4 linked regions of the Homo sapiens genome follow. The protein of the gene in region 1 interacts with the protein of each later gene in a pairwise test. Each region holds a gene or a part of one and is shown in the gene's direction. Other genes may lie near its edges. The genes, in order: BSG, SLC16A13, NCSTN and SLC16A11.

The links.
Region 2: the proteins of BSG (region 1) and SLC16A13 interact in binary tests that used the Homo sapiens proteins (3 or more experiments, as listed by UniProt).
Region 3: the proteins of BSG (region 1) and NCSTN interact in binary tests that used the Homo sapiens proteins (3 or more experiments, as listed by UniProt).
Region 4: the proteins of BSG (region 1) and SLC16A11 interact in binary tests that used the Homo sapiens proteins (3 or more experiments, as listed by UniProt).

The regions. Positions count from the first base shown.
Region 1 is NC_000019.10:575,578-582,598, forward strand, and holds part of BSG (basigin isoform 1 precursor), read left to right. Parts: intron 1-2,196; coding exon 2,197-2,544; intron 2,545-3,922; coding exon 3,923-4,079; intron 4,080-4,801; coding exon 4,802-4,884; intron 4,885-5,068; coding exon 5,069-5,205; intron 5,206-5,737; coding exon 5,738-6,014; intron 6,015-6,728; coding exon 6,729-6,753; intron 6,754-6,936; coding exon 6,937-7,000; 3' UTR 7,001-7,005; intron 7,006-7,021.
Region 2 is NC_000017.11:7,032,124-7,039,025, forward strand, and holds the start of SLC16A13 (monocarboxylate transporter 13), read left to right. Parts: upstream 1-3,891; 5' UTR 3,892-4,259; coding exon 4,260-4,458; intron 4,459-4,603; coding exon 4,604-4,747; intron 4,748-6,028; coding exon 6,029-6,766; intron 6,767-6,902.
Region 3 is NC_000001.11:160,338,846-160,346,396, forward strand, and holds the start of NCSTN (nicastrin isoform 1 precursor), read left to right. Parts: upstream 1-4,537; 5' UTR 4,538-4,551; coding exon 4,552-4,636; intron 4,637-5,630; exon of another isoform or gene 5,631-5,744; coding exon of another isoform or gene 5,745-5,769; intron 5,770-5,876; coding exon 5,877-5,981; intron 5,982-7,551. Other genes in the region: COPA (coatomer subunit alpha), read right to left, coding at 1,064-1,137, 1,336-1,449, 4,286-4,325. UniProt on the Homo sapiens protein: Essential subunit of the gamma-secretase complex, an endoprotease complex that catalyzes the intramembrane cleavage of integral membrane proteins such as Notch receptors and APP (amyloid-beta precursor protein).
Region 4 is NC_000017.11:7,041,113-7,048,582, reverse strand, and holds SLC16A11 (monocarboxylate transporter 11), read left to right. Parts: upstream 1-4,490; 5' UTR 4,491-4,808; exon of another isoform or gene 4,809-5,063; 5' UTR 5,064-5,069; coding exon 5,070-5,271; intron 5,272-5,342; exon of another isoform or gene 5,343-5,509; coding exon 5,510-5,653; intron 5,654-5,819; coding exon 5,820-6,587; coding exon of another isoform or gene 6,588-6,652; exon of another isoform or gene 6,653-6,674; coding exon 6,675-6,904; 3' UTR 6,905-6,962; downstream 6,963-7,470. UniProt on the Homo sapiens protein: Proton-linked monocarboxylate transporter. It catalyzes the transport of pyruvate across the plasma membrane.

The DNA.
Region 1 (7,021 bases):
TCGCTGGCTGCTGTCTGAGCACTGGGGTGGGTGGGGAGGAGGGCGGGTGGGGGCGGGCAGCCTTATCCTGCGGGGCTGCTTGTGTACAAGTACCACGCGGCCTGCCTGGCCCTGAGCCCTGGGCAAGGAGGCGGAGGCTGTTTTTAGATGAAGGTGACTTTACTTGAGAACATGGGTTACGTCTCATGTGGCCAGAATCGAATTCTAACCTTTCTGGGGCTGTGGCCGAGGGTCAGGCGCCGTCCCTCCTCCTGCTGCTCATGGGTGGAGGCTCCTGGTGCGGCGGGCGAGATGGGGTGGTCCGTGGGGTGGGGGCGCTCTGCATTGTCCCCGAGGAGCCTCTATGGAGGCTTTCTCTTCCGGACGCCCCCCCACCCCCAGTGACACGTCAATACACAGACACCAGCATCATCAGCATCCGGAGGGACACAGGGTTGTTCCATCCAAAGCCTTTTGGTCCCTTTGGGAGCGATGCTGCCCGCTGAGAAGCTGGCGGACCCAGCGGGAGCACCGGGACCGGTGCAGATGGCGCCTGGGAGCCCGGGACTCCTGGAAAGGTGGCTGGGGGCAGCTCGGCTGCGGGCCCCACCTGGTCCTCCTCACTTTCCTGTGTGCCCTGCCCTGCCTGGAGGTGGGGTGAGGTGAGTCAGGGGCCAGCCCTCTCCTAGCACCCCTGGGTGAGGAGGATGTGGAGCCCAGCCCTGCAGGTCTGGAGGATGAGGAGAGGGGCTGCTGCAGGGCAGGAAGGAGCTTGCCAGCTGGGCAGCCTCTGGCTGTGCTTCCTGCCCTGACTCACCTCGCCCAGCTCTGCACATAGCTGCCAGTGTTGCAGTCTGGGAAATCTTAACTCCCAAGAAATGTAGGTTACCAGGAGGAGATCCCTTTGTGAAAATGGCACTGCCAGCCAGGCGCGGTGGCTCACGCCTGTAATCCCAGCACTTTGGGAGGCCCAAGAGGGTGGATCACGAGGTCAGGGGTTCAATACCAGCCTGGCCAAAATGGTGAAACCCCGTCTCTACTAAAAATACAAAATATTAGCTGAGTGTGGTGGCAGGCACCTGTAATCCCAGCTACTTGGGAGGCTGAGGCAGGAGAATTGCTTGAACCCGGGAGGCAGAGGTTGCGGTGAGCTGAGATTACACCACTGCTGAACAGAGTGAGACTCTGTCTCAAAAAAAAAAAAAAGAAGAAGAGGAGAAAGAAAATGGCGCTGCCAAAACTTGTCAACTGCGCCTGCCCAGAGCTCACCTGAGGTGCTCAGACGTGAACATTCCTGTCCCCGTGGCCTTGGGGGCCGTGACCTGTGCACTGCCACGCAGCCTCGGAGCCGTGTGCACGCATATGCACGTGTGTATGTGTTGTGTGTGTTTGCAGACGTGTGTCCTTGTGTGTGTGTGTGTGTTGTAGCGGTGCCTGGGGAGTCTGACCTCAGAAGGTGCTGTGGGGAGGGCTGCAAGGTCCTGGCGGGAGGAGGCACTCCCCACGCTTCCCCTTGGGCTGGGCTGTTCCTGGCAGGCGAGTGCTAGGCACAGTGTGAGGTTCTGTGTGGATTCTGCTGTGCTCCTTGGCAGCTCTGGGGGCCTTCCCTTGCATTTCGAAGGAAGGGGAGGCGTGTGGCTGGAGGTGAGAGGCCCTGAGGCCCTGCCTGGCTCCCAGCTTCCCAAATCCGCCTCTCTCTGGGTCGCCGCCCTCAGAGATTGCTGAGGACACGAGCTTTCCACCCACGGGCTGTCCTAACGGAGCCGGGCTAGGGGCTTCTGGACAGAGGCCGCCTGCCCCTTTGGGCTTTGGGGTTTGTTTTTCTCAGCAGCTCACCCGGGTCTCTGGGGTCAGGGTATCGGGCAGAAGTCAGAGGACGGTGCGCTTGGGACCTGAGCTCTGGGCAGCCCTCGGGGCTCAGGACTCCTGGCTCTTCTGCCCAGTTTCATGTGTTTTGTGTTTTGAAACCACGTGTGGTCCCACAGTTGTGCCCTCAGAAGCCGCCGTGGCTGCCGTGAGGTAGCAGTGGACGGGACGCCCACGGTCTTTCCCATGCCATGCTGTTTCCAGCCGGGCCCCATCACTCTCCCACAAGCTGAAAGGAAGTGGCTTCTCCACCAGCCCTGGCTGGGAGTCCTGTGGGCGAGGCCTTCCCCAGGAGCTGCCCTCCCAAGTGCCCCAGGCACTAACAAGACCCCACGCGTGCTCTCCCCACAGCCGGCTTCGTCCAGGCGCCGCTGTCCCAGCAGAGGTGGGTGGGGGGCAGTGTGGAGCTGCACTGCGAGGCCGTGGGCAGCCCGGTGCCCGAGATCCAGTGGTGGTTTGAAGGGCAGGGTCCCAACGACACCTGCTCCCAGCTCTGGGACGGCGCCCGGCTGGACCGCGTCCACATCCACGCCACCTACCACCAGCACGCGGCCAGCACCATCTCCATCGACACGCTCGTGGAGGAGGACACGGGCACTTACGAGTGCCGGGCCAGCAACGACCCGGATCGCAACCACCTGACCCGGGCGCCCAGGGTCAAGTGGGTCCGCGCCCAGGCAGTCGTGCTAGTCCTGGAACGTGAGTGGCGGGCACCTCCCTCCCCGCCTCCCTCAGTTTCCCTCCTGTGCCGCTCGCCTCCCGGCTCCTGCTCAGTAGAACCCAGACGCCTCCTCCCCTCTCCGTCCCGCTGTGCCCCGTTGGGCCCACCGCCTGGACGGAGGGGCCCGGACCTGAAGGGGGTGGGCTCGCCGCCTGACCACCAGCGCTGGGCGGCCTGGCTCGGGGCAGGCAGGGCTCTGCCCTCCAGCAGGTGGGTCCTCGTCCTCCCCTCGACCCTCGTGCCATCCGTTCCGTCGTTTCTGCTTCCCCGGGCGCCTGCCCGGCTCCCTCCCTGAGCGTCCATACTGCAAGCCTGAGGGGCCCTCCAAGCTCAGCCCAGGCTTGCAGGTCTCAGAACCTTCTGTGTCCTTCGCAGCATCTCGTTCTAAGGGATTTTCAAATTTCAATTCCTAGCGGGAATATTGTAAACTAACCAAGAACCAAGAGATTTGCTTGGTTGGGGATTGGCAGAAGAACCGGGGTGCTCCCAGCACTGCTGGAGTGCCGTCAGCCTGGGGCTGGGGGGATGTGGGGCCACCTGAGTGCCTCCTAGAGAAGGGCACGGGAGCCTTGGCCGGGGGTGCTGTGGCTATTTTTTTTTTTTTTCCTGGAGATGGAGTCTTGCTGTTCCCAGGTGGAGTGTGGTGGCACAATCTCGGCTCACTGCAACTTCCGCCTCCCGGGTTCAAGCGATTCTTCTGCCTCAGCCTCCTGAGTAGCTGGGATTACAGGCATGAGCCAACATGCCCAGCTAATTTTTTGTATTTTTAGAAGAGACGGGGTTTCACCGTGTTAGCCAGGATGGTCTCGATCTCCCGACCTCGAGATCCACCCGCCTTGGCCTCCCAAAGTGCTGGGATTACAGGCGTGAGCCTCCGCGCCCGGCCACCACCGCGCCCAGCTGGCTACGTTTTTAGAAAAGAATTTCCAGTTTGTGCTGGGGCTGCTACAAGAGCTCGATGCCCTGGTCCCTGCTCAGGGACGTGGGTGGGTGCCTTGTCTGTCCCCACACCCTGGTCCCAGCCTCGTGTGTCTCTGGGCAGGAACATCGCCAGGCGGGGCCTCTGGGTTCCCAGCGCCTTAGCCCAGGGCCCGCCAGCTGCCAGCGAAGGGTGCCTTCCCGAAGGGGGTGCCTTCCCGAAGGGGCCTCCTCAGCAGGCGCTGGGCTCTTCCCTTCCCGGAGGCGTGGCCAGAAGTTCCCCTTGGGCCTCCGGTCCTCGGGGCGTAAGGGCCACGGTGTATTTTTGGGATGAAAACCAGTCCTTCCCGGGGAGGAGCCGCAGGTTCCTGGGGGTCAGGCAGGCAGCGCGGGCCGTGCTCCTCCACTCTGCTGACCGCGTCTCGCCGGGCCTTGCAGCCGGCACAGTCTTCACTACCGTAGAAGACCTTGGCTCCAAGATACTCCTCACCTGCTCCTTGAATGACAGCGCCACAGAGGTCACAGGGCACCGCTGGCTGAAGGGGGGCGTGGTGCTGAAGGAGGACGCGCTGCCCGGCCAGAAAACGGAGTTCAAGTGAGTGCCTGACCACGCCATGCCGCCACCTGCCCCTTCTCACGGCTCTCTTGCCGCCAGCGGCCTGTGGTCCGTGAGAACAAAAGACCGGTCGGCAGGCTTGATCCAGGCGGAAGTTAGGGACCAGCTCCGCGCAGACCCCCAGAGGGAAACCCCAGGGAGGGGTCTGAGGGGCGTCCTTGTGAGGCAGGGGGCTCCAGCAGCCCTGGCAGGAGTCCCCATTGCTTGCTCCTCACTAGGTCCCGGGCACGAAAGGGCGCCACACTGCCAGGTCCCGGGCACGTGTGCGGGCCTCCCAGGCTCTGTGCTCCTGGCACAAGAGGGCACCACACTGAGGCATGCCCTGCTCGGACCCCAGACGCTGTCATGGCCGGAGCTTTGTCATAACTGGGGCTGGGACGGCCCTGGGAGCACAGAGCCTTTTGTTTTCAGGCTGACTGGGAAGACGGTCACAGGGTGTGGGGTGCAGAGCAGGGACCAGAGGTGTGGGGTTCATCAGTCGGGGAGAAGGGGGTCTGTTGGTTCTCTCACCTGTGGGGTCTTGCCAGCCTGGCTCTGTCCTTGGGGCCGCACGGGGACCCCAGGAGTTCTTTTGAGGTTCAGACTTGACTGGGACAGTTTTGCTTTTTCACTGTGCCGTGGTTGGGCCCCTGGAGAACCCTGGGTCCTTGGAGGCGTCCTGCAGAGCTGGTACGCGGCTCACCTGCCTGCTGTGGTTGCAGGGTGGACTCCGACGACCAGTGGGGAGAGTACTCCTGCGTCTTCCTCCCCGAGCCCATGGGCACGGCCAACATCCAGCTCCACGGTGAGTCCTGCAGCCAGGGGTACCGGGCACCACCGACTGTCGGGAGAAGTTGTTGGCCTGAGGCACCCGGCACATCCCAGAGCCCTGGCCCCCTGCTCCCTGGAGGGGAACAGCCCTCCTGCGGGAGGCCGGGGATGGGGGCGGGCCTGCGGTTCCAGGCTCCTCTCTCTCACCCTCCTGTCAGGGCCTCCCAGAGTGAAGGCTGTGAAGTCGTCAGAACACATCAACGAGGGGGAGACGGCCATGCTGGTCTGCAAGTCAGAGTCCGTGCCACCTGTCACTGACTGGGCCTGGTACAAGATCACTGACTCTGAGGACAAGGTGAGAAGCCAAGGAGGCTGGGGGTCCTGGACCCAGCCCTCAGGACTGGGTGAGAGGCCTAGACTGGGGGTCCCGGACCCAGCCCTCAGGACTGGGTGAGGGGCCTAGACTGGGGGTCCCGGACCCAGCCCTCAGGACTGGGTGAGGGGCCTAGACTGGGGGTCCCGGACCCAGCCCTCCGGACTGGGTGAGGGGCCTAGACTGGGGGTCCCGGACCCAGCCCTCCGGACTGGGTGAGGGGCCTAGACTGGGGGTCCCGGACCCAGCCCTCTGGACTGCAGCCCTCCAGACTGGGTGAGGGGCCTAGACTGGGGGTCCCGGACCCAGCCCTCAGGACTGGGTGAGGGGCCTAGACTGGGGGTCCCGGACCCAGCCCTCCGGACTGGGTGAGGGGCCTAGACTGGGGGTCCCGGACTCAGCCCTCCGGACTGGGTGAGGGGCCTAGACTGGGGGTCCCGGACTCAGCCCTCAGGACTGGGTGAGGGGCCTAGACTGGGGGTCCTGGACTCAGCCCTTGCCTTTGGTCCCCTAGGCCCTCATGAACGGCTCCGAGAGCAGGTTCTTCGTGAGTTCCTCGCAGGGCCGGTCAGAGCTACACATTGAGAACCTGAACATGGAGGCCGACCCCGGCCAGTACCGGTGCAACGGCACCAGCTCCAAGGGCTCCGACCAGGCCATCATCACGCTCCGCGTGCGCAGCCACCTGGCCGCCCTCTGGCCCTTCCTGGGCATCGTGGCTGAGGTGCTGGTGCTGGTCACCATCATCTTCATCTACGAGAAGCGCCGGAAGCCCGAGGACGTCCTGGATGGTGAGCCGTCTGCCCTCCTGCCCACATGCCCTGCTCTCGGGGTGGCCCAGGGCCACTCCTGGTCCGTCCCTGCCAGCCCCACCGCTGACCCAGAGCTTGGAACTGAGGAGCCCCAGGCAGGGAGTTGATGGGACCCCGAAAGAAAGTGTGGGATGGAGGGTCTAGCCCCGGGCAGCTGCGGCTCAGTGGGCAGCGGGACCCCGGGAGGAGGAGGCGGCACCTCCGCCCCACAGCCTCACCCGGCCCTTCCCTCCCGCTCACTTGGCTGCAAGCCAGTGTCCTCCGTGGTGAGCCGGCCCTTGCTGCTCTGCATGATCAGGCTCGGGAACCTGAGGTCAGCCATGCTGTGCTCCGGCAGCCCCTGCCTGCCTCCTCGCGGAGCCCTTCTGCCCCTTGGGCTGCGTGTGCCGGGGCGAGGCCTGTGTGGGGCCTGTGATGGCAGCTCCTGGAAAACGCTGTGGGGCAGGGGTGAGGCCCACGAGGCCATGGGGACAGCTCACCATGGGGAGCACACCTGCAGGTGGGGAGGGCTGCCTTTCCCCACAGCACTCAGAAGATGCACGTGGCCGGGGCTGATGAGCTGCCCCGAGCCACCCCTGGGGGTCACTGAGGGCAGGGCTGGCAGCACAGATGCCCCTGCTCGGGGCCTGAGTGGGGCCAGTGCTGACAGGCTGTCCTCTCGTCCTCTTTTTCATGGCGGCGGTCCTTCTTCAGATGACGACGCCGGCTCTGCACCCCTGTAAGTTCCAGCTGTGGGGGTCGGGGGTCCCAAGGAGCGGCCTGCTGCCCCAGGCCTTTAAAACACAAAGGCAGAGCCCCTGGGCTTCAGTATTCGGGGGTCCTGGGGGCCGGGGTGGGCAGGGGTGACTTGGAGAGAGTGACTTGCGGGGGACACCCTCTCACCCGGCCCCTCGTGCCCCAGGAAGAGCAGCGGGCAGCACCAGAATGACAAAGGCAAGAACGTCCGCCAGAGGAACTCTTCCTGAGGCAGGTGCGGTGGGCGGGAG
Region 2 (6,902 bases), on another chromosome or scaffold:
TATGATTTGCACCTTCTGGAGCTTCAATACAAGCAACACACACACACACACACACACACACACACACACACACACAAGGAACACCTGGGGCCACTTAAGCCACCACCAGGCTGGGGTGGCCACAGAGTGCTACACTGGGGTGTGGGGTGCAGAGTCCTGAGGTTGCCCTGGGCGGTGAGCCCATGGAGAGCACCCAGGGCCTGTACCCTGAAACCCTCTGTCCTCCAAGGCCTCTGGGCCTGTGATGGGAGGGGCAGCCTCAAAGACCTCTGAAATGAGTTCAGGGACTTTCTTCCATTTTCTTGAGGAAGAGCACCTGGCTCCTTTTTAGCCATGTTAATCTTTTTAGCAAGAAGTGGCTTGGCCACGCCCTTGGATTCATCTCCTGAAAATGCTCTTTCATTCTCTACCACATGGCCAGGCTGAGAATTTTCCAAATGTTTCCACTCTGTTTCTTTTCTCTGTGAGATCATCTTAAGCAGTTAGAAGCAACCACACAGCAGCCTCAGCATTTTGCTGCTTAGAAATGTCTTCTGCCTGCCAGATACCCTAGTTCATCACTCTCAACTTCAGCCTTCCACAAAGCCCTTGGGCATGGATACAGTTTAGCCAAGCTCTTTGCCAGTTCGTAACAAGGATGGCCTTTACTCCAGTTTTCAATACCTTGCTCCTCAGTTCCATCTGAAAGCTCATCAGAATGGCTTTTGCTTCCATATTTCTTTTTTTTTTTTTTTTTTTTGAGATGGAGTCTCGCTCTTTCGCCCAGGCTGGAGTGCAGTGGCACGATCTCGGCTCACTGCAACCTCCGACTCCCTGGTTCAAGCGATTCTCCTGCCTCACCCTCCCGAGTAGCTGGGATTACAGGCGAGTGCTACCATGCCCAGCTAATTTTTGTATTTTTAGTAGAGACAGGTTTCACCATGTTGGCCAGGATGGTCTCAATCTCCTGACCTCATGATCCGCCCACCTCAGCTTTCCAAAGTGCTGGGATTACAGGCGTGAGCCACCCCGCCCAGCTGCTTCCATATTTCTATCAACATTCTAGTCATAAACACTTAACCAATCTCTAAAGAATTCCAAACTTTTCTTAGTCTTCTTGTCTTCTAAGACCTCTCCAGAATCTAGGCTTTTTCTAGCCTACTCCTCCAAATGCTTCCAGCCTCTGCCCATCACCCACTTCCAAAGCCACTTCATCATTTTCCGTTATTCATTATCAGCAACACCCCACTTCTTGGTACCAGTTTTCTGTCTCATTCAGTTCATTTTCTGTTGCTTACAACAGATTATCTGAAACTGGGTAATTTATAAAGAAAATGAATTTATTTCTTATAGTATGGAGGCTGAGAAATCCAAGGTCCAGGGGCCTCACCCTCTAGTGAGGGTTTTCTTGCTGATATGGACTCTCTGTGGCACAGGGTGTCACATGGCAAAGGGGGCTAAGCATGCTAATGTTCTAGCTTGGATCTGTCTGAAAAAGCCGACAATTCCCCTCCCATGATAACCCATTAATCTATTAACCTTTTAGTCCTTTATGATGGGGTTAATCTGTTAACCTATTAATCCATTATGGTGGGCTAATTCATGGGGATTAATTAATCCATTAATCCCATCCAATCACCTTTTAAAGTTTCCACCTCTCAGTACCGCCAAGTTGGGGATTAAGTTTCAATATGAGTTTTTGGAGGTAACATTCAAACCATCGCAGTGGTCGTTTCTCAATCTTTTTAAACCCATGACCTGGATTAGATTTTTTTTTTTTTTAATCAAAAAACAAAAACTAGGCAGGGCATGGTGGCTCACGCCTATAATCCCAGCACTTTGGGAGGCCCAGGCAGGCAGATCACCTGAGGTCAGGAGTTCGAGACCAGCCTGACCAAAATGGTGAAACCCTGTCTCTACTAAAAATACAAAAAATTTAGCCAGGCATAGTGGCAAACACCTGTAGTCCCACCTATTCGGGAGACTGAGGCAGGAGAATCACTTGAACCCAGGAGGTGGAGGTCGCAGTGAGCCGAGATCATGCCATTGCACTCCAGCCTGGGAGACAAGAGCAAAACTCCATCTCAAAACAAAAAACAAAAAACAAAAAAAAAAACACTAAACTAAAACCTTCCTTCACTTCCCACTACAGCAGCTTATCCCCTGTTGAAAATAACACCAATAAGACCAGCTAAGCTAATATTACTTGGCTCCTGCTGCATGTCAGCACATAAACTAAGCATTTTTAGTGCATGGATTTTCTAACTGAACCCCTTGGGCAACGCTTAATAGTAGGTACTATTATCCCCAGTTTACAGATGGGGAAACCAACTGAGAGATTCAGCATCTTGATCGAGTTAAGTAATAAAGTCAAGATTGGAACTGGGCCAGGCACGGTGGCTCACGCCTGTAATCCCAGAACTTTGGGAGGCCAAGGCTGGTGGATCACTTGAGGTCAGGAGTTCGAGACCAGCGTGGCCAACATGGTGAGACCTCGTCTCTACTAAAAATACCAAAATTAACTGGGCGTTGTGGTGGGAGCCTGTAATCCCAGAAACTCAGGAGACTGAGGCAGGAGAATCACTTGAACCCGGGAGGTGGAGGTTGCAGTGAGCCAAGATCATGCCACTGCACTCCAGCCTGGGCCACAGAGCAAGACTCCATCTCAAAATAAATAAATAAATAAATAAATAAATAAATAAATAAATAAATAAAAGACTGGAACTGTGATCTGATTCTAAAGACCCGAGTTCTTAATCACTATGTAATACAGCCACAGCAATTTCTGTATCTTTGGCATATTCCCCACCAGCCGACATTTTGACTCTTAGAAAGTATATATGTGTATTATTGATGATTACTTTTATTTCCCACATATAAAATTATTTAAGGCTCAATATGTCTTTTAAGACTACACACCTCCCTCCCTGCCTCCACTTCTTGTTTGCTGCTTTCCCCAGTAATCTGGGAGTGAACATTGAGTCCACGGTTTCAAGGTCAGGGTCCTGGGAAGTATGGCTTATAATGAAGGAACAGGAAATCCAAGCCATTGGTGTTATGGAGACTGGGAAGGACTGGGGAGTGTTTGCTAGGGGCCTGAGGACTACTTGGGTAAGAGGGGGCTGACTGCTCCAGTGGCCAGGGTCATAGTTTGTCTCTTTAGTCTACCCCACCATCAGATCAAAAAAGGTGGTTAGGAAGTGGTTGTTACTAGAGGGCAGAGGAAAAGGTTCCAGCCCCAGTGAGGAAGAGGTAGGTGGTGTTGGTGGGGCCCTGTGTGAGCTTACAGCCGCCCTTCCTCTCCTCAGTTATTTTTGGTCTCTGTGACCTGTAGGTTTCCTGTTAGTGGGAACAGAAGTGACAGGAACGAGTTCCCACTACAGAAATGAACGCCAGGAGTCCAACTCATTCCCCTTCTCTCTTCCCTTAGCCGTTGAACTTCTCAGGGATCCAGGCTTCTAGGTCTGCGTGCCTAGGGCTGCGTGTTAGTGGCTTCAGGCGCTGCGCCAAACACTTCGTTTGAGTCTCATCTCCTAACCCCTCCCCTACCCCCAACAGGGCCTTGCAATTCCTGGACCCCTCATTAAAGCAAGAGAGTCCTCTCCTCTCCAGACCCAGTTTACCCACCACTAACCCTTCCGTGTGGCTCTGGGTGCTGAAACGGGGATGACTTGGCCCGCTAGGTGAAGAGGAGACGGAAGCTTCCTGGCAGTCCCCGCGTCACGTGGGGCCCTACCTAGTCAGCCTCCTAACGCCCCTCCTTACGCATGCGCCCATTCACTGCTGGTCCCCAACAATGCCTAAATCCCGCCCTGCCCTTCTCGTTCCGCCCCTGCCCGGGAGCCCCGCGTCCTCATTGGCGAGCTCCAGGGTGGCCCGGCCCGGACACCCCAGTGATAAAATAGATCATCTACACGGAAACTGGCGCGCTCCAGGGGTGGGGCCCAAACTCAGTTCCACCCTCTGGCTCCCAGCCGAACACCGAACCGGGACCGATCCGGCCCCGGCTTGAACTAGCTCAGCTCCGAGCTCGCGGAACCACGCCCCCGGGAGACTCTGGCCCGGCCAGCGCGGGCCAGGTCTTCAGTCCTATATCGCCCCGCCTTGGGAAAAGGTGCAGGGGCCTCTCGCCGCCTCGTCGGGCCCTTCCTCTCTACCTGCCTCTCCAACCCCTCTCGGCCCCGAGCCACCCGGCAGCGGGGGTGGGTGTGCAGAGGTGCGGCGTCCAGAACCCGGCTCCTGCAGAGGCTCTGGGTGGCAGCAGCCCTGTTACCGCTTAGATGGCGCGCAGGACAGAGCCCCCCGACGGGGGCTGGGGATGGGTGGTGGTGCTCTCAGCGTTCTTCCAGTCGGCGCTTGTGTTTGGGGTGCTCCGCTCCTTTGGGGTCTTCTTCGTGGAGTTTGTGGCGGCGTTTGAGGAGCAGGCAGCGCGCGTCTCCTGGATCGCCTCCATAGGAATCGCGGTGCAGCAGTTTGGGAGTGAGTGCGGCGCCTGGATCTGGCGGACTGCGACCCTCGGAAGGGAGAGGGAATGCGGCGACTGGGAAGTGGAAGGGCGAGGGGCGGGAGATGCTGGGGGGGAGACCCCTGAGATCTTCTCGCAGCGCCCCTTCCACTTCCTCAGGCCCGGTAGGCAGTGCCCTGAGCACGAAGTTCGGGCCCAGGCCCGTGGTGATGACTGGAGGCATCTTGGCTGCGCTGGGGATGCTGCTCGCCTCTTTTGCTACTTCCTTGACCCACCTATACCTGAGTATTGGGTTGCTGTCAGGTGAGAGCCTGCACAAGGGCAGGAGAGTCAAATGCTTAGATCGTTGGATGTTCACCTCCTTCCTGCTCCTTCCAAAGGGTTCGGGGAGAAGCTGAGGGAAAGTTTAGCTAGCACCTGTACCCAGAAGGGAATTCTTAATAGGAATGACTAAAGCGACAAACATGGTGAGGAATTAGGAAATTCAAGGATGATGAAACCTGGCCGGGCACGGTGGCTCACGCCTGTAATCCCAGCACTTTGGGAAGCCGAGGCGGGTGGATCACGAGGTCAGGAGTTTGAGACCAGCCTGGCCAACATGGTGAAACCCCGTCTCTACAAAAATACAAAAATTAGCCGGGCCTGGTGGCGCTAATCCCAGTTACTCGGGAGGCTGAGGCAGGAGAATCGCTTGAACCCGGGAGGCGGAGGTTGCAGTGAGCCAAGATCGCACCACTGCACTCCAGCCTGGGCGACAGAGCAAGATTCTGTCTCAAAAAAAAAAAAAAAAAAGATGAAACCAAGTATACAAGCCCAGAAGCCCAGGGCTAATGGGACTGGAGTGTAAAAGGAAGAATTACTATAAAATGGTGCTAGGGGCCAGGCACGGTGGCTCACGCCTGTAATCCCAGCACTTTGGGAGGCCGAGGCGGGCGGATCACGAGGTCAGGAGATCAAGACCATCCTGGCTAACACGGTGAAATCACGTCTCTACTAAAAACACAAAAAATTAGCTGGGCGTGGTGGCAGGTGACTGTAGTCCCAGCTACTCGGGAGGCTGAGGCAGGAGAATGGTGTGAACCCGGGAAGCAGAGCTTGCAGTGAGCCGAGATTGCACCACTGCACTCCAGCCTGGGCGACAGAGCGAGACTCCGTCTCAAAAAAAAAAAAGAAAAAAAAAGGTGCTAGGTACTGTGACTGTGAAATCGATATCATTATTGGATTTACAGCTGGGGAAAAGCTTTAAAGCTTATACAACTTGGCAAATGAAGGTCACACAGCTAGAAATGGTAGAGCCCAGGTCTAACTCCAAAGTTCTGTGCTAGTTACCTTACAAACTTTGTCTCTAATCTTCCACAATCCCAAAAAGTGTATTATTACATTTTGCAGTTGAGAAGGTTGAGGCTGGGGGTGTTAAGTAAAACACACAAGGTTACACAGCTATGAAGTATCCAAGCCAAGATTGTATCCCAGGTCTGTGGGACTCCGAAGCAAGTGCTACATTCTGCTGCTGGGCAATGCGGGGATTACTGTGTGCCTTGAGCTCCCTAAGAGTTCTCAACACCACTTCTTCCTTTTTGACAGGCTCTGGCTGGGCTTTGACCTTCGCTCCGACCCTGGCCTGCCTGTCCTGTTATTTCTCTCGCCGACGATCCCTGGCCACCGGGCTGGCACTGACAGGCGTGGGCCTCTCCTCCTTCACATTTGCCCCCTTTTTCCAGTGGCTGCTCAGCCACTACGCCTGGAGGGGGTCCCTGCTGCTGGTGTCTGCCCTCTCCCTCCACCTAGTGGCCTGTGGTGCTCTCCTCCGCCCACCCTCCCTGGCTGAGGACCCTGCTGTGGGTGGTCCCAGGGCCCAACTCACCTCTCTCCTCCATCATGGCCCCTTCCTCCGTTACACTGTTGCCCTCACCCTGATCAACACTGGCTACTTCATTCCCTACCTCCACCTGGTGGCCCATCTCCAGGACCTGGATTGGGACCCACTACCTGCTGCCTTCCTACTCTCAGTTGTTGCTATTTCTGACCTCGTGGGGCGTGTGGTCTCCGGATGGCTGGGAGATGCAGTCCCAGGGCCTGTGACACGACTCCTGATGCTCTGGACCACCTTGACTGGGGTGTCACTAGCCCTGTTCCCTGTAGCTCAGGCTCCCACAGCCCTGGTGGCTCTGGCTGTGGCCTACGGCTTCACATCAGGGGCTCTGGCCCCACTGGCCTTCTCCGTGCTGCCTGAACTAATAGGGACTAGAAGGATTTACTGTGGCCTGGGACTGTTGCAGATGATAGAGAGCATCGGGGGGCTGCTGGGGCCTCCTCTCTCAGGTAAGTGGAATGGGGTTCCCAGGGGGTGAGGGCTGCCATGTTGCACAACTAGGGGAGGGTACTATTCTCATTACAGTGTATGTGAATATTGCCCTCTGGTGTAGTACAGTACACAGCCTGCGTGGCCAACCATAGC
Region 3 (7,551 bases), on another chromosome or scaffold:
CTTATTCAACGTACTCCTTGAGCAATATCTTCTACTGCTTCTCCTTTGGCTCCTCCCTTCATGACGACAAATCACAAATATATTTCTAGCACAGACACCTCAACTAGACTGTCCCTTAGGTCCCTCAAAATCACCAGAGACAAGATGGAATTCATTATCCATTCTCTTCCACTCCAGAAAACTATCTCCTCCTGATTTTCCTTTCCTAGTTAATGACACCCCCTTTACCCAGTGACCTAAACTAGAAGCCTGAAAGTCAGCTCATTTATTTCTCCTTATTGGCCCTTATTTCTCCTTATTGGCCATCTCATTTATTTCTCCTTATTGGCCATCACCCAACAGACACACTGATTCATTTCCTTAAATTCTCACATCCATCTCCTTCTCTCCATTTCAAATGCTACTACCTAAGCTCAGGTTTCCTAACTGGTATTTTTGCCTCCTGTCTTGCCCAAATCATCCAATCTTTTCTTTAATTACCACCAAGTAATCATTTTAAAAACATATAAATCTGGTATCACTCCTGTATTTAAGTTCCTCAAATGGCTCCTAGTTATCTGCATGATAACATCTAAACTCCTGAGCGCCACAAACAGGTACTCCATGATCTGGCCCCTCTCATCTTCTGCCCCTTCTCTCACCATTTCTCCAGGTTTTCTCCATACAAAACCAATAACAGCTGCCCTGTATCTAGCTGTGTCATGCTTTTTGTCTTTGCACCTATACTGCTCTTTCCTATTTCACTGTGAATATCTCTCTATTATATTGCTTACCAAACTGTACATGCTATTACTTGGATATATGTTTATCTTCTGTATTAGAATAAAAGCTCCTTGAAAACAGAAGCCATTTCTTATTTATTTTTGAATTCCCTAAAAAGAAAACAGTGTCTGGTACACAGTAAGCATTCAATAAATGTTTGCTGAGTAAGTTCTCCGGATAATGTTGTCAAAGGCCTGAGCTCTGTATGAATGAAATTTCCTGTCTTTCAGTTCCTTTCATGATTCCCAAACCTTCCCACATCCTCTTTCCTTTATTCTCAGTTATGACAGACCCTCTGTACCTTAATCTTATAGTCATCTCCTCCAGAGACGAACAGTGGCTGCTGCTTATGGAAGTCAATGCCTCGCACTGGACCTGGTGGAGAAGGCAGGCAATGTATGTTAGACAGAGCTATCCTTTCTAATCTCTAAGGTGATTCCTATTCAGGATTTTTCAGTTCTATCATTTCCACATTCTTTAATCATAGAGGAATCCATGTCAAACAAGGCTTAAAATACCCCAGGATATTATAAATACTTATACTCCTTTAACTTCCTCCTAGAAATATCTCACCATCATGTTCATCAAACTTGTCAATGAGAGTGCACATCCGATAGTCCCATAACTGGATGACCCCATTATGTAAACTAGTCAGGATCCAAGGTCTTTTGGGGTGAAAGCTGAGCCCTGAAAAAAATAGAAAATGATACAATGAGCTAACTAAGCCCCATGATGTCACCTTCTGTCAATTCTGATAAGAAAAAGAAACATCAAGGTTAATCCTAGGTTCATTCATTCGACATGCTTGATGATTTTTTACTGGATGCCAGACATCGTGAATTTTATGTTTGGTACTAGATTTTTGTCATATTCCTTTACATATTCTTGGGCTTTGCTCTAGGATACAATTAAGTTACTTGGAATCAGTTGATCCTTTCAAGGCTTGCTTTTAGGTTTTATTACAGAGGGGCTACAGCAGCCTTCATTCTAGGCTTAATCTGGAACCACTATTAAAGCAATAGCCATCTGAGGTCTCTATTTGAAGCCCTGTAATATTAGGAAGTCTTTCCTTTCTGGCAAGTAGGAACACAAACTAGTCCCAGTTCACTAGTGTGAACTCTGGGGATTGCTCTGCCTTCTCCTTTCCAGTGGTCCTTTTTCAGGTTTTGAATAGTTTTCTCACATGCAGATCAGTACTCAAACAAAGACCTGAGAAGACATCCTGCAGATCTCTAGTGCTCTCTCTCTGCAGCCCCCTCTTCTCCGGTATTTTGCCCAACAAAATCTAGCCATCTTTGCTTCCCCACACTCTAAATTTATGTCTCCTCAGAAAGACCAAGGGATTCCCCTCTTCACTGAAGCCTAAAAACTCTCTAGGCAGTAATCTACGACAATCACAGGACTCACCTTGTTTATTTGCCTTCTCTGGAGAATTATTTTCCTGCACTGCCTGTTGCCCAACATCTGTGAGCAATGTATGAACCTTTGTTTCATACATTTTGTTCAGTTGTATAGTTAAGGTGGGAAGGTAAATCTGGCTCTTGTTATTCTATCATGACTGGAAATGGAAGTCCCCAGAGGTAACAACTACTAACAGTTTGAAGTGTATCCTTTCAGATTTTTAATGCAGTTACACATAGACATAGGCTTTAGTATTTTATGAAAGTGGGGATCACGTTATGATGTTGTTCTGCAAACTTCTTCCTCACTTAACTATATAATATGGATCTCATGGAAGTACATATAAACATAACCTCATTCTTTTTAACTACAAGGGACAAATGTACTACACTTATATTATTCTAACAGGCATTTTGTCCGCCAATTTTTGGCTATCAGAAGAGCCTACTGAAGATACTTCTACACATAATCTAGCCTATTTGCATTATTACTGCCCTAGGCTAAAGACCTGTGAGATTGCTCAGGAATAGAATATGTGCACTTAACATTTTAGTACATATAGTTTAAATGTAAAAACACTGTATCAATATACAGTCTCATGAAGTTTATGGAGGTGCCCATTTTGCACACAGGCTGCTATCAGCTATTTGTTGTTTTGTTTTATAAATCTAAGACCCTCCCCCCAAAAAAGTAACTTAACTTTTTTTTTCTTGCATTTCTTTCATTACTAGTGAGGTGGAACTATTTTAATTATTTATTGAACATTTACAATTTTTCTTCTAAATTGTCTATTTTTCCATTAGGTTCTTTTTTTTAATTATGATATATAAGTACACTCAACAATGGATGTTTGCCCTCAAATATTATGACATCTTTGTTTTTCCTTCTGTACTGCCCAGCAAGAAATTAGGAGCAGAAAAGAAAACTGAAAGATTATGAAGACCCATTTCACATTTCACCTATACAGGTCTCAGAAATTCTTAATGGTACCCATCTTTCAAGGTCAAGTTTCCCAAGAGACTTAGAAACTGCTCAGAATATATTCACACATTGATAACAACCTCCAGTTTTTGAGCTACTGAGTCTACACCAGGCGCTGTAATAAATACACTCCATATACTTTCTCATTTTAATACTCTCTATAAAAGACGATTTTACAGATGAGGAAATACAGACTTAGAGACATTAAGTAAGTCATCCAAGTCACAGCTTGTTAGTGGATGTCTCAGGATTCCAAGGCAAGCCCATCTGACTTCAAAGACCAAGTTCCTAACCACTTTGTTACGCTGCATCTCACTAAATATTCTAGATACTATTTTTTCCAGGTCTTCGGAGACCTTACTTCTCTGACTTTCACATTCTAACGTTCTGAGGCTAATACTGCGATCTCAGTATTTGCCCTCCACCCCCAACGACCCACACTCGAGCTCTAGAGCTGCCGTACTTAGCAAATAAAAATACGAGATTTCCAGATAAATTTGAACTTCTGGTAAGCAACGACAGACTAAAAAACTATTCATTGTTTACCTGAAATTCAAATTTAACTGGGTATCCTGCATTTTATCTGGCAACTCTATCAAGTTGAGACTTTATTGGGGTTATAAGCCTCAAGTACTATTTCCGGGTAGTAAATAAAGCCGAATGGAGGCACTGATGTTGAGATGCTGCAGCCAAGGCCTCCTTAAGTGAGGTTGCCACTACTCGTCTCCAAAAAGGCTACTGACTCGGGTGCGAGTAACAGAGATCGAGACTCAGTTCCCAGGGCCACTCCATATAACACAGTCATCAAAAAGCCAACAGATCACAGGGCCTTTGGAGCAGAACAACACAAATCGGGAGCACAGCCAAGAGAGAAAGGGGGAAGAAAGAATAGGGAGGGGGTCTAAGGAATCCCCTGCAGTGTGGGAGCCACTTTATAGGTAAATCGAAGCCCAAGGACACACCAAAGAAGAGGGGACTGGAGAACCGCTAGCCAGGCCCAACCTCTCTCCCACCCTCCGTCTTCCTCCGGGTCCGTCTGGTGGGCCCATTTCGACCAACACCTCTACCCATTTTCTCTTCCCCGGTGTCAGCGCCGCTCCTGACATCCAACCTCCATGTTCCCCCTTTTATTCTCCACTACCTTTGACCCGCGCGCTCTTGGTCTCGAATTTGGTTAACATCTCTCAGGTCTCCGACTCCGATGTCTTAATCCGAGCCCCGACACACCCTGCTGCCCTTCGGACGCCTCCACGTCAGCGACCCTCTCCCGCGGTTTCCGGAAGCGCCTGGAAACACGAACTTCCGGTCTCTTAGGCTCCGGGCCACAGAGACGGTGTCAGTGGTAGCCTAGAGAGGCCGCTAACAGACAGGAGCCGAACGGGGGCTTCCGCTCAGCAGAGAGGCAAGATGGCTACGGCAGGGGGTGGCTCTGGGGCTGACCCGGGAAGTCGGGGTCTCCTTCGCCTTCTGTCTTTCTGCGTCCTACTAGCAGGTGAGGCCTCCCCGCCCGTGAGCTCCGTTCTCTAAGGGGAACTCTCGGATCGGCCCCGCCGCGACCGCCACTGTCTCCCTTCTGGTTCCTGCTGCCCCTCTGTCCCCCCACCCTGTAAATCCTCTTTCTTTTTCGTTCCCACGACAGAAGTTCCCCCTTTGCCTGGACCTGAAGGTCCCTTCTCCCCCGCAGCACGTCGTGTCGCTTCACTCCCTTCTCTAGGCCTCTTCCTGGACTTCGAGCCTGACCCTCTCCCACTTTGTCCAGATGTCTCGTTTTTCCCACAACCCCAGCCACCCACCCCACAGTCGAAAGGAACAGGTGTGAAAGTTAGCTTTCTTCCTCGCGTTTAGACTTTTTGAGACGAAAGCAATCTTGTTCTGTGGGTGCTGTGCGGCGCTTAAAAGGTGGATTTCTTATTTCTTCCTCTGTTGATTACATCCTAAGTCTGTGTCCCCCTGCCTTGCCTCAGGTTTTTTTTTTTTTTTTTTTTTTAATCAGTAAAGCAAGAATAAGGTAGGATATGGGTACTCTTAACTGTGAAGACCCTGAAGTAACAATTCAAGGAACTTTTGGCATTTATAATGTACTTAAGTGTTTGCTGATACGCGTTCATTTACTGATACATGGCTTTTTAGTTGGTCAAGCCCTAAAATGCAAATGCCTGTATATAACTATGACTGTGCCTTCCCCCAATTCACATTGTTTTTAAGGATCCTCAAAGGAGAAACTACAGCTGCCCCACACTGTGGGCACACAAATGACCTGCTGATGTTAAATTAACTGACCCGTGTATGTCATAAGGTTTCTCTCAATTCTGTTCACACTCTTGGAAAAATGCCTCAGAAAGTTTTCTTAGCCCAGCACCTGTGTATTAACCAATTAGTAATATACATACAGGATATACAAGCAGAAGTGTGATCACCTGTGCAACCAGAATCTGGCAAATCTAAGGTCAAACACCTTTCCTTTGACCAAGTTTTCTCTCTTTTAGTGTCACTGTCAATGGCGCTACATGGACTTTGTAATAACCCTTTGAGGCACATAGCTGGGTGCCATGTAGAACATGTATCTGTTACGATAAGTGTGTGCCCAAGAAATCAGAAGAATGGACTTTAATCTCATTTTAGAAAGTATGATATTAAATGATTTACCCAAGCCATACTTCAGGTTAATGACACGATAGAAGCTAGTACCTGTGTCTCTCAAATTTTTCTAACACTTTTTATCTTCCGATCAGGTTTGTGCAGGGGAAACTCAGTGGAGAGGAAGATATATATCCCCTTAAATAAAACAGCTCCCTGTGTTCGCCTGCTCAACGCCACTCATCAGATTGGCTGCCAGTGTGAGTTGAGATGGATTCATGTTTGTGGACATTGATATTTGTCTGTGCCCTAGATACTAAGTAACATCCATGTCCTGCTTAGGAGATTTGACACTTATATTGGACTGTATGTAGGCAGTTACAGATAACCGTCTGTCAAGCTAGGCAAGATAATTAATAAGAACTAACATTTAGTAAATGCTGCATACCAAGCTTTTTACATGTGCATCTCATACAACCCCAACCACAACCCCACAAAATAGGTCTTACTGTTATTGTCACTTTATAAATGATGAAACTAAAACTTAAAGAAGTTGAGTAACTTTCCCAAGATCATACTGGTAATAAGTGATGATGCCAGGATCTGGTGGCCCGAGCACTAAGCTGAGAGACCTTTTTTTTTTGACACGGAGTTTCACTCTTGTCCCCCAGGCTGGAGTGCAATGGCACGATCTCGGCTCACGGTGACCTCTGCCTTCTAGGTTCAAGTGATTCTCCTGCCTCAGCCTCTTGAGTAGCTGGGATTACATGCACCTGCCACCATGCCCAGCTAATTTTTGTATTTTTAGTAGAGATGGTGTTTCACCATGTTGGCCAGGCTGGTCTCGAACTCTTGACCTCAAGTGATCCACCCACCTTGGCCTCCCAAAATGCTGGGATTACAGGCGTGAGCCACCGCACCCAGCCGAGCCAGCACTCTTAACCACCCTATTATACTGTTTTTTAAGGAGAAAAAAGTCTCATATTCTATGGTGTCCAGTTATCACTTGCACTCTGAACTTTTTGGAACCAAAATGGGCTAAAGGCAATGAACTATCTGAAGAGAAGGCACTGAAAATGCCAAATAGGCTGGGCGCAGTGGCACATGCCTGTAATCCCAGCACTTCAGGAGGTCAAGGCGGGTGGATCACTTGAGGTCAGGAGTTTGAGACCAATCTGCCAGCATGGTGAAACCCCCCCATCTCTACTAAAAATACAAAAATTAGCCGGCTGGCTGCTATGGCATGCCTGTAGTCCTAGCTTCTCGGGAGGCGGAAGCAGAAGAATCCCTTGAGCCCAGGAGGCGGAGGTTGCAGTGAGCTGAGATTGTGCCACCATACTCCAGTATAGGTGACAGAGTGAGACACTGTCTGAAAAAAAAAAAAAAAAAAAAAAAGAAAATGCTGAATAATTGCAAGAGGAATTAGTGAAGCATTCTATTTATCCTTTTTTAAAACTTTTTTTCCTTAAATTCAACTGACAGGCCGTTTATTTTCACACTTTGTGTGTTCCAAAAGAAGGTTCCATGACACTGTGGCTTTAAAAACTATCAAAATCATAGGGCAGGAAAAGTAGTAATCTAAAGGCTAACCTGCTGTCTTCAGATTTTGTTTCCCATGGACAATAGCTCTGTCAGAATGTAGTTTTGCAGATAAGCAGGAAACTTGGGGTCTGATACTGGCTTCTTCATCATCAAATTGATCACCTCTGAATTTCAGTTTACCCCTGGAATAATGGTTGGAGTACTTGCATAAAGCTGAAAGTCAAATACCTCTTAATAGTTGTTTATTGATGACGCTAGGTAAATAGGGTGGTCTCAAAAGTGCTGTAT
Region 4 (7,470 bases), on another chromosome or scaffold:
CAGGTAATCCACCTGCCTTGGCGTCCCAAAGTGTTGGGATTACAGGTGTGAGCCACTGCGCCCGGCCTTCTCTTTTGTTTTTAGAGTTAAGGCAGGGAGACCAGCATTTTCACACAAACTTTGGAAAATGCTAAGGGAAAAGAAAGAAGAAAAGCAGAAATTTCCATTGAATCTCTTTATAGCCATTCACATTTTCTAACCCATGTGGCTCTACTGAGAACTTACCAGGGCAATGTGGTGCCTTGACCTTGAGGCATGGGCAGAGGTAGCCAGGTGGGAAAGGGCTGCCGTGCTGTTAGGTCCAGCCAGGTTCCTCAACTCACAGCAATAGCGGCAATGGAGGCTGAGCGCGGTGGCTCACACCTGTAATCCCAGCACTAAGGGAGGCTGAGGTAGGTGGATTACTTAAGGTCAGGAGATCAAAACCAGCCTGGCAAATATGGTGAAACCCCGTCTCTAATAAAAATACAAAAAAATTAGCTGAGTGTGGTGGCGGGCACCTGTAATCTCAGCTACCTGGGAGGCTGAGGCTGGAGAATTCACTTGAACCTGGGAGGCAGAGGTTGTGGTGAACCTAGATTGTACCACTGCACTCCAGCCTGGGCAATAGAGCAAGACTCTGTCTCAAAAAAAAAAGAAAAAAAAAAAAAAAGAAAGAAAATAGCGGCAATGAGCTCTAACACGTATACTTTGGCACTGTTCTAAGTTCCTTACTTATATGTGTATTCACAGTGACTCATTTAATTCTTATAACAACCCATCAGGTAGCTACTGTTATTACCCCCATTGTAGAGATGAGGAAACCGAGGCACAGAGAGGTTGAGTCACACTTGCTCATAATCATATAGTTACTAAGTGGTAGAGTGTGGGCGAAAGATTACGTAGATGCCGAGGCAAGAGACTGAAGGCACAAACTGTTTCAGTGTAATAAAGAAAATAGAATAAAAATAGTCATAATACAAATGAGATATAGAGATGATCATGGACAATTATCAATCATTATTATAGACATTATTAATCATTAGCTTTTAATATTACTTTTTGTTGCATTACTAATATAACCTACGAATAACCGGCAGGTATAGGGTCAGGTGATGAAGGGACATTGTGAGAAGTGACCTAGAAGGCAAGAGGTGAACCTTCTGTCACGCTCGCATAAGGGCCGCTTGAGGGCTCCTTGGTCAAGCGGTAACGCTAGTGCCTGGGAAGACACCCATCACTTAGCAGATCGCGAAAAGGAGTGTCCTTTCCTTGGAGGAGTCAGGGAACACTCTGCTCCAGCAGCTTCTTGTGGAAGGCTGGATATTATCCAGGCCTCCCCGCAGTCATCCGGAGGCCTAAACCCCTCCCTGTGGGGCTGTGCTTCAATGCTCACGCTCCTTGTCCACTTTCATGTTCCTCCCGTACTCCTGGTTCCTCTTTGAAGTTCGTAGTACAGAGCGGTAGATGAAATAGTGAAAGTCTAAAGTCTTTGATCTTTCTTATCAGTGCATAGAAGAAAACGCTGACGTATGCTGCCTTCTGTCTCTACTTCGGCTACCTAAAAGGGAAGGGCCCTCCCGTCCTGTGATCACGTGACTTGCTGCACCTTGTCAATCACTTAGAAGATTCACCCTCCTTACCCTGCCCCCTTGTCTTGTATGCAATAAATATCAGCGCAACCAGCCGTTCGGGGCCACTACCGGTCTCCGCGTCTTGATGGTAGTGGTTCCCAGGGCCCAGCGTCTTTTCTTCTATCTCTTTGGCTTGTGTCTTTATTTGTTACAATCTCTCATCTCCGCACACGGGGAAAACACCCGCCAAGCCCCGTAGGGCTAGACCCTACAGTAGAGCTGGCATTCAACCTCAAGAAATCTAGCTTGGGAGTCCATTCTCCTAATCTCTGTGCTATTTTACCTCCGTGAGCAAAAGATGACAAGTTTTGCTAAGAATATAGGGAGCCTGAGGTAGAAGAGGAATGTGCTCTTTCACAGCCCTAGTCCCAGGCTCTGGGATACCCTTCTGGCTTCGTAAGCATCCTGCGAAGGTGCGCAGCATCACTTAGCACAACTCCCAGATGCGGAGGGCCCGGTCTTCGCTCTGACTGTCCTGCATTTCTGCGTCACCATGGGGAGACAGTGATTCGTTTAGCTTGGAGCAGAGTCTTCAGCAGCCTTCTCAGGAAGCGGGATCCCTGCCCTCCCCGGTAGCTGAGGACCTGCTGGCTCCGCCTCCCTGGTGGCTTTCATAACAGCACTCCAGGCTGGGGAAACCGGTGGGGCCACTTTCCTAAGGTGTGTCTGTCAGGACCTTCATGAACAACAGGACGTTTCAAGCAGAGAGCATGACATATGCAAAAATTAAGGAGTGAGAAAAAGCTAGGCATGTCCACAGAGCAGAGAAGACAGTGGCTGATGGGAGGCTGGCAAAAGGGAGAGAGGGGAGATGGTTTGGAACGGTAACCTAGGTCTACCTTTGATTATTGTAAAAGACCTGTACAAATAGAGAAATGTAATTTTTCCCGTCTATAGGCAATGGAGAGCCATTGCCTATAGTCATGCTGTGTCTTTTATGTTTACAGTTTTGCTCCTTAAGAAGCTGTTTTTCTTGTCTTTACGTGCAGATTCTTTCCCAATAATTAGGAAACACTGCCATCATGTGGCTCAATGGATGCATGCTCCAAACTTAAGTTGCTGAATGTTCTATCATATTGTTTAATAATTAAACCAAAGAACACATCTCTGAATTCAAAGAGCTGAGGTAAAGAATGTCAACCTATCAAAAAAGGACATTTTCTATAAAGTTTTTCAAAAAATCAATACCTGGCTTCAATGACCTGATTTTTTACTTTGCTTTTAAAATTGTAACCTGGCCAGGCATGGTAGACTGTAATCCCAGCACTTTGGGAGTCCGAGGTGGAAGGATTGCTTAAGTCCAGGAGCTTGAGACCAGCCTGTGCAACATGCTGTGACCCCCTCTCTACAAAAAAAATGAACAAATTTAGCCAGGCATGGTGGTGTGGAGCCTGTAGTCCTCGCTACTCGGGAGGCTGAGGTGGAGTATTGCTTGAGCCTGGGAGGTGGAGGCTGCAGTGAGCCATAATGGCAGTACTACACTTCAGCCTGGACAAGACCCTGTCTCTATAAATAAATACACACACACATACATACATACATACATACATACATACATACATACATACATAATAAAAAATAAAATTCTAACCTAAGTGTTTAGAGATTCTGATCTCAAGAATCCTTTCTATTCCCAGTGACCCCTTATTTTAGACTCATAAGTTTTCTGTCCCTGCAATGGTTCCACCCTTTCCAGGGCAGTTTGCTTCAAGCTGTATCCAGGATCTTTCCCTTAACTGTGCCAGATTTTGTTTCAGTCCTGGGATTGTTCTCCTTGTAGGTCCACAGTTGGACAGACCTAAATTCAAATATCCATACCATTTTTTCCCTGAGAGCTTCAGTTACTGCATCTATAAAAGAGGCACGACATCGGCCAGGCGCGTTGGCTCACTCCTGTAATCCCAGCACTTTGGGAGGCCGAGGTGGGCGGATCATCTGAGGTCAGGAGTTCCAGACCAGCCTGGCCAACATGGCGAAACCCCATCTCTACTAAAAAATACAAAAATTAGCTGGGAGTGGTGGCAGGCGCCCGTAATCCCAGCTACTCAGGAGGCTGAGGCAGGAGAATGGCTTGAACTTAGGAGGCAGAGGTTGCAATGAGCCGAGATCTCGCCACTGTACTCCAGCCTGGGCTACAGAGTGAAACTCCATCTAAAAAAAAAAAAAAAGAAAAGCGACACCTTCTTCATAGGGTTATCATAAGATGAAGTGATAGCATGTGTAAACGGTGCCTGGTACACTGCAGGTCTTCACATTGAGGGAGTCGTGTTTCATCCCTCTGTCCTTGAGGACCTGTTATTTTATTTTATTTATTTTATTTTTGTTTATTTATTTATTTTTGAGACAGAGTCTTTCTCTGTCACCCAGGCTGGAGTGCAGTGGCATGATCTTGGCTCACTGCAACTTCTGCCTCCCGGGTTCAAGCGATTCCCCGCCTCAGCCTCCCAAGTAGCTGGGACTACAGGCGCCCGCCACCACACCCGGCTAATTTTTTTTGTATTTTTAGTAGATATGGTGTTTCGCCATGTTGGTCAGGCTGGCCTCGAACTCCTGACGTCAGGTGATTCACCCACATCGGCCTCCCAAAGTGCTGGGATTACAGGCTTGCACCGCGCCCGGCCTGGGGGTCTGTTATTCTAAGCACAGAGCTGGCACTTGGTGGAGGTCTGTGATCTGATTGATATCCGAGATTTACCTGGTCCTCGGCAACGTTCCTGAGAACAAAACTACTCATCCCCTCAGGTTTTGGGGACCATCCCTATTTCCACGCGTTGGCGGTGGACCCTGGGCTCGCTGGGGTTTGCAATCCACGTGTCTCCCCTGCGCGCAGCAGGCGGCAGGTGCATGCGTGTGAGTAGGGCAGGGCCCCTCTGCATTCATTTCTCGCCGCTCCCCCCTCCCCCGGGCCTGGGGGTTGTGTGTGTACATAATTCAATCCCCGTGGGACTGGCGTCTGGCCTCACGCGCGGCTTGCCGGATTGGCTGTTTCAGCTCGCCCCCGCCCTCCGTACACCCCGCGTCCCAGGTGGCTCAGGCCCCTGTGGTGATCTCTGTTTACCGAGAGAGCCCGTCCAAGTTGGGCTCCATCGCTGCCCTCGCTCCCCTTCGGGGCCCCCGCCCGCCTGGGAAGCAGAGAGAAAGCCGGGCCCAGCCCTTCCTCACCCTTCCCCTCCCCGCACCGCCCGGAGAGGTCGGGTAAGGGGGAAGGAGTGTGCGTGGGACGGGGAACCTCGGGCCTGGGGATCTGGCTGTCCCCGTCCCCGTACCTCGCGCGGACCCGGGAGTTCCAGCCCTAGGCCAGGCTCCGGCTCCCTCCGCCCCGCGCCATCGCGCTCGGAGTGACGGGCCCACCCCGGGCGAGCAGCCAGAGGCTGGATCTCAGGGATGCCAGCTCCCCAGCGGAAGCACAGGCGTGGAGGCTTCTCTCACAGATGTTTCCCCACCCCGCAGACGGCGATGACCCCCCAGCCCGCCGGACCCCCGGATGGGGGCTGGGGCTGGGTGGTGGCGGCCGCAGCCTTCGCGATAAACGGGCTGTCCTACGGGCTGCTGCGCTCGCTGGGCCTTGCCTTCCCTGACCTTGCCGAGCACTTTGACCGAAGCGCCCAGGACACTGCGTGGATCAGCGCCCTGGCCCTGGCCGTGCAGCAGGCAGCCAGTGAGGGGGGCCCTGAGGCGGGAGACAGGAACGGGGAGGAGGAGCCGTGAGTGGAGGGATGGGAGACCCACCTGATTACCCGACAACCTGAGAAAGGGCAACCGGCTCTAGAAAAGAGTGCATCTTGAGGTCAAGGAGAAGAACCATTAGTTCGAGGGAGGCAAACAGCCAATGAGAAGTGTTGGAGAGAGTTTGGGGGCCCGGGGGCGTGTCTTCCGTTGACTCCGCCCCCTTTCAGGCCCCGTGGGCAGCGCCCTGAGCACGCGCTGGGGGGCCCGCCCCGTGGTGATGGTTGGGGGCGTCCTCGCCTCGCTGGGCTTCGTCTTCTCGGCTTTCGCCAGCGATCTGCTGCATCTCTACCTCGGCCTGGGCCTCCTCGCTGGTGAGGGAAGTGGGATGCCCGGGTCATTCAGGGTGAAGGAGGTGACAGGAGCTTGTTGGGATCTGGGGTAGCGAACGAGGCGGGGGCCTGGTGCGGAGAGCCGGGCTGGGAATGCTGGGGCGGGCGTCCCCAGTGCCGGCCCCCATCCCCTCCTATTCATTCGCAGGCTTTGGTTGGGCCCTGGTGTTCGCCCCCGCCCTAGGCACCCTCTCGCGTTACTTCTCCCGCCGTCGAGTCTTGGCGGTGGGGCTGGCGCTCACCGGCAACGGGGCCTCCTCGCTGCTCCTGGCGCCCGCCTTGCAGCTTCTTCTCGATACTTTCGGCTGGCGGGGCGCTCTGCTCCTCCTCGGCGCGATCACCCTCCACCTCACCCCCTGTGGCGCCCTGCTGCTACCCCTGGTCCTTCCTGGAGACCCCCCAGCCCCACCGCGTAGTCCCCTAGCTGCCCTCGGCCTGAGTCTGTTCACACGCCGGGCCTTCTCAATCTTTGCTCTAGGCACAGCCCTGGTTGGGGGCGGGTACTTCGTTCCTTACGTGCACTTGGCTCCCCACGCTTTAGACCGGGGCCTGGGGGGATACGGAGCAGCGCTGGTGGTGGCCGTGGCTGCGATGGGGGATGCGGGCGCCCGGCTGGTCTGCGGGTGGCTGGCAGACCAAGGCTGGGTGCCCCTCCCGCGGCTGCTGGCCGTATTCGGGGCTCTGACTGGGCTGGGGCTGTGGGTGGTGGGGCTGGTGCCCGTGGTGGGCGGCGAAGAGAGCTGGGGGGGTCCCCTGCTGGCCGCGGCTGTGGCCTATGGGCTGAGCGCGGGGAGTTACGCCCCGCTGGTTTTCGGTGTACTCCCCGGGCTGGTGGGCGTCGGAGGTGTGGTGCAGGCCACAGGGCTGGTGATGATGCTGATGAGCCTCGGGGGGCTCCTGGGCCCTCCCCTGTCAGGTAAGGACCTGAGCTCACAGATCTGCCTACAACTATCCTCTGCCCCTGGGGTTCGAGGCTTCTAAATGCCCTTACCCATCTCCTCAGGCTTCCTAAGGGATGAGACAGGAGACTTCACCGCCTCTTTCCTCCTGTCTGGTTCTTTGATCCTCTCCGGCAGCTTCATCTACATAGGGTTGCCCAGGGCGCTGCCCTCCTGTGGTCCAGCCTCCCCTCCAGCCACGCCTCCCCCAGAGACGGGGGAGCTGCTTCCCGCTCCCCAGGCAGTCTTGCTGTCCCCAGGAGGCCCTGGCTCCACTCTGGACACCACTTGTTGATTATTTTCTTGTTTGAGCCCCTCCCCCAATAAAGAATTTTTATCGGGTTTTCCTGAAACCTCCAACTGTTCACCAATCTAGGACCCTGAAAATATTCTACATAAGACAGCCAGAAAGGCTGGTTCAAAGGAACAGGATCCCAGAAGGCCCTGGGTATGAAGAAGGGTGACTGTCCAGCCAATCCATTTCTCTTTGCCCAAGTCCTGGCCGTAACAGGGAATCTTTGCGAAGTTGTCTGGCAGCCAGTTTCAGTGTGTTGCTGGGGTTGGGGGCGGGTTGCTAGTGGGTGCTATCTGCCCCATCTTCATGTCCCTTACCCTAGTTCCCAGACCTCCCAGACTTAACTCTTCCCTGCATTTCAATCTCCTTCTATGGGCCTGAGGGAAATACAAGAATCCTAGGCCCAGACTTCAGCTCTATCAAAGCTATTCACACATCTATACCCTGTGTCCTCAGCATTCTCTCAATTTCTTTTCTTTCCTTCTTTTTTTTTTTTTTTTTTTTTTTGAGACAGAGTCTCCCTCTGTTGCCCAGGCTGGAGTGCAGTGGCGCGATCTTGGCTCACA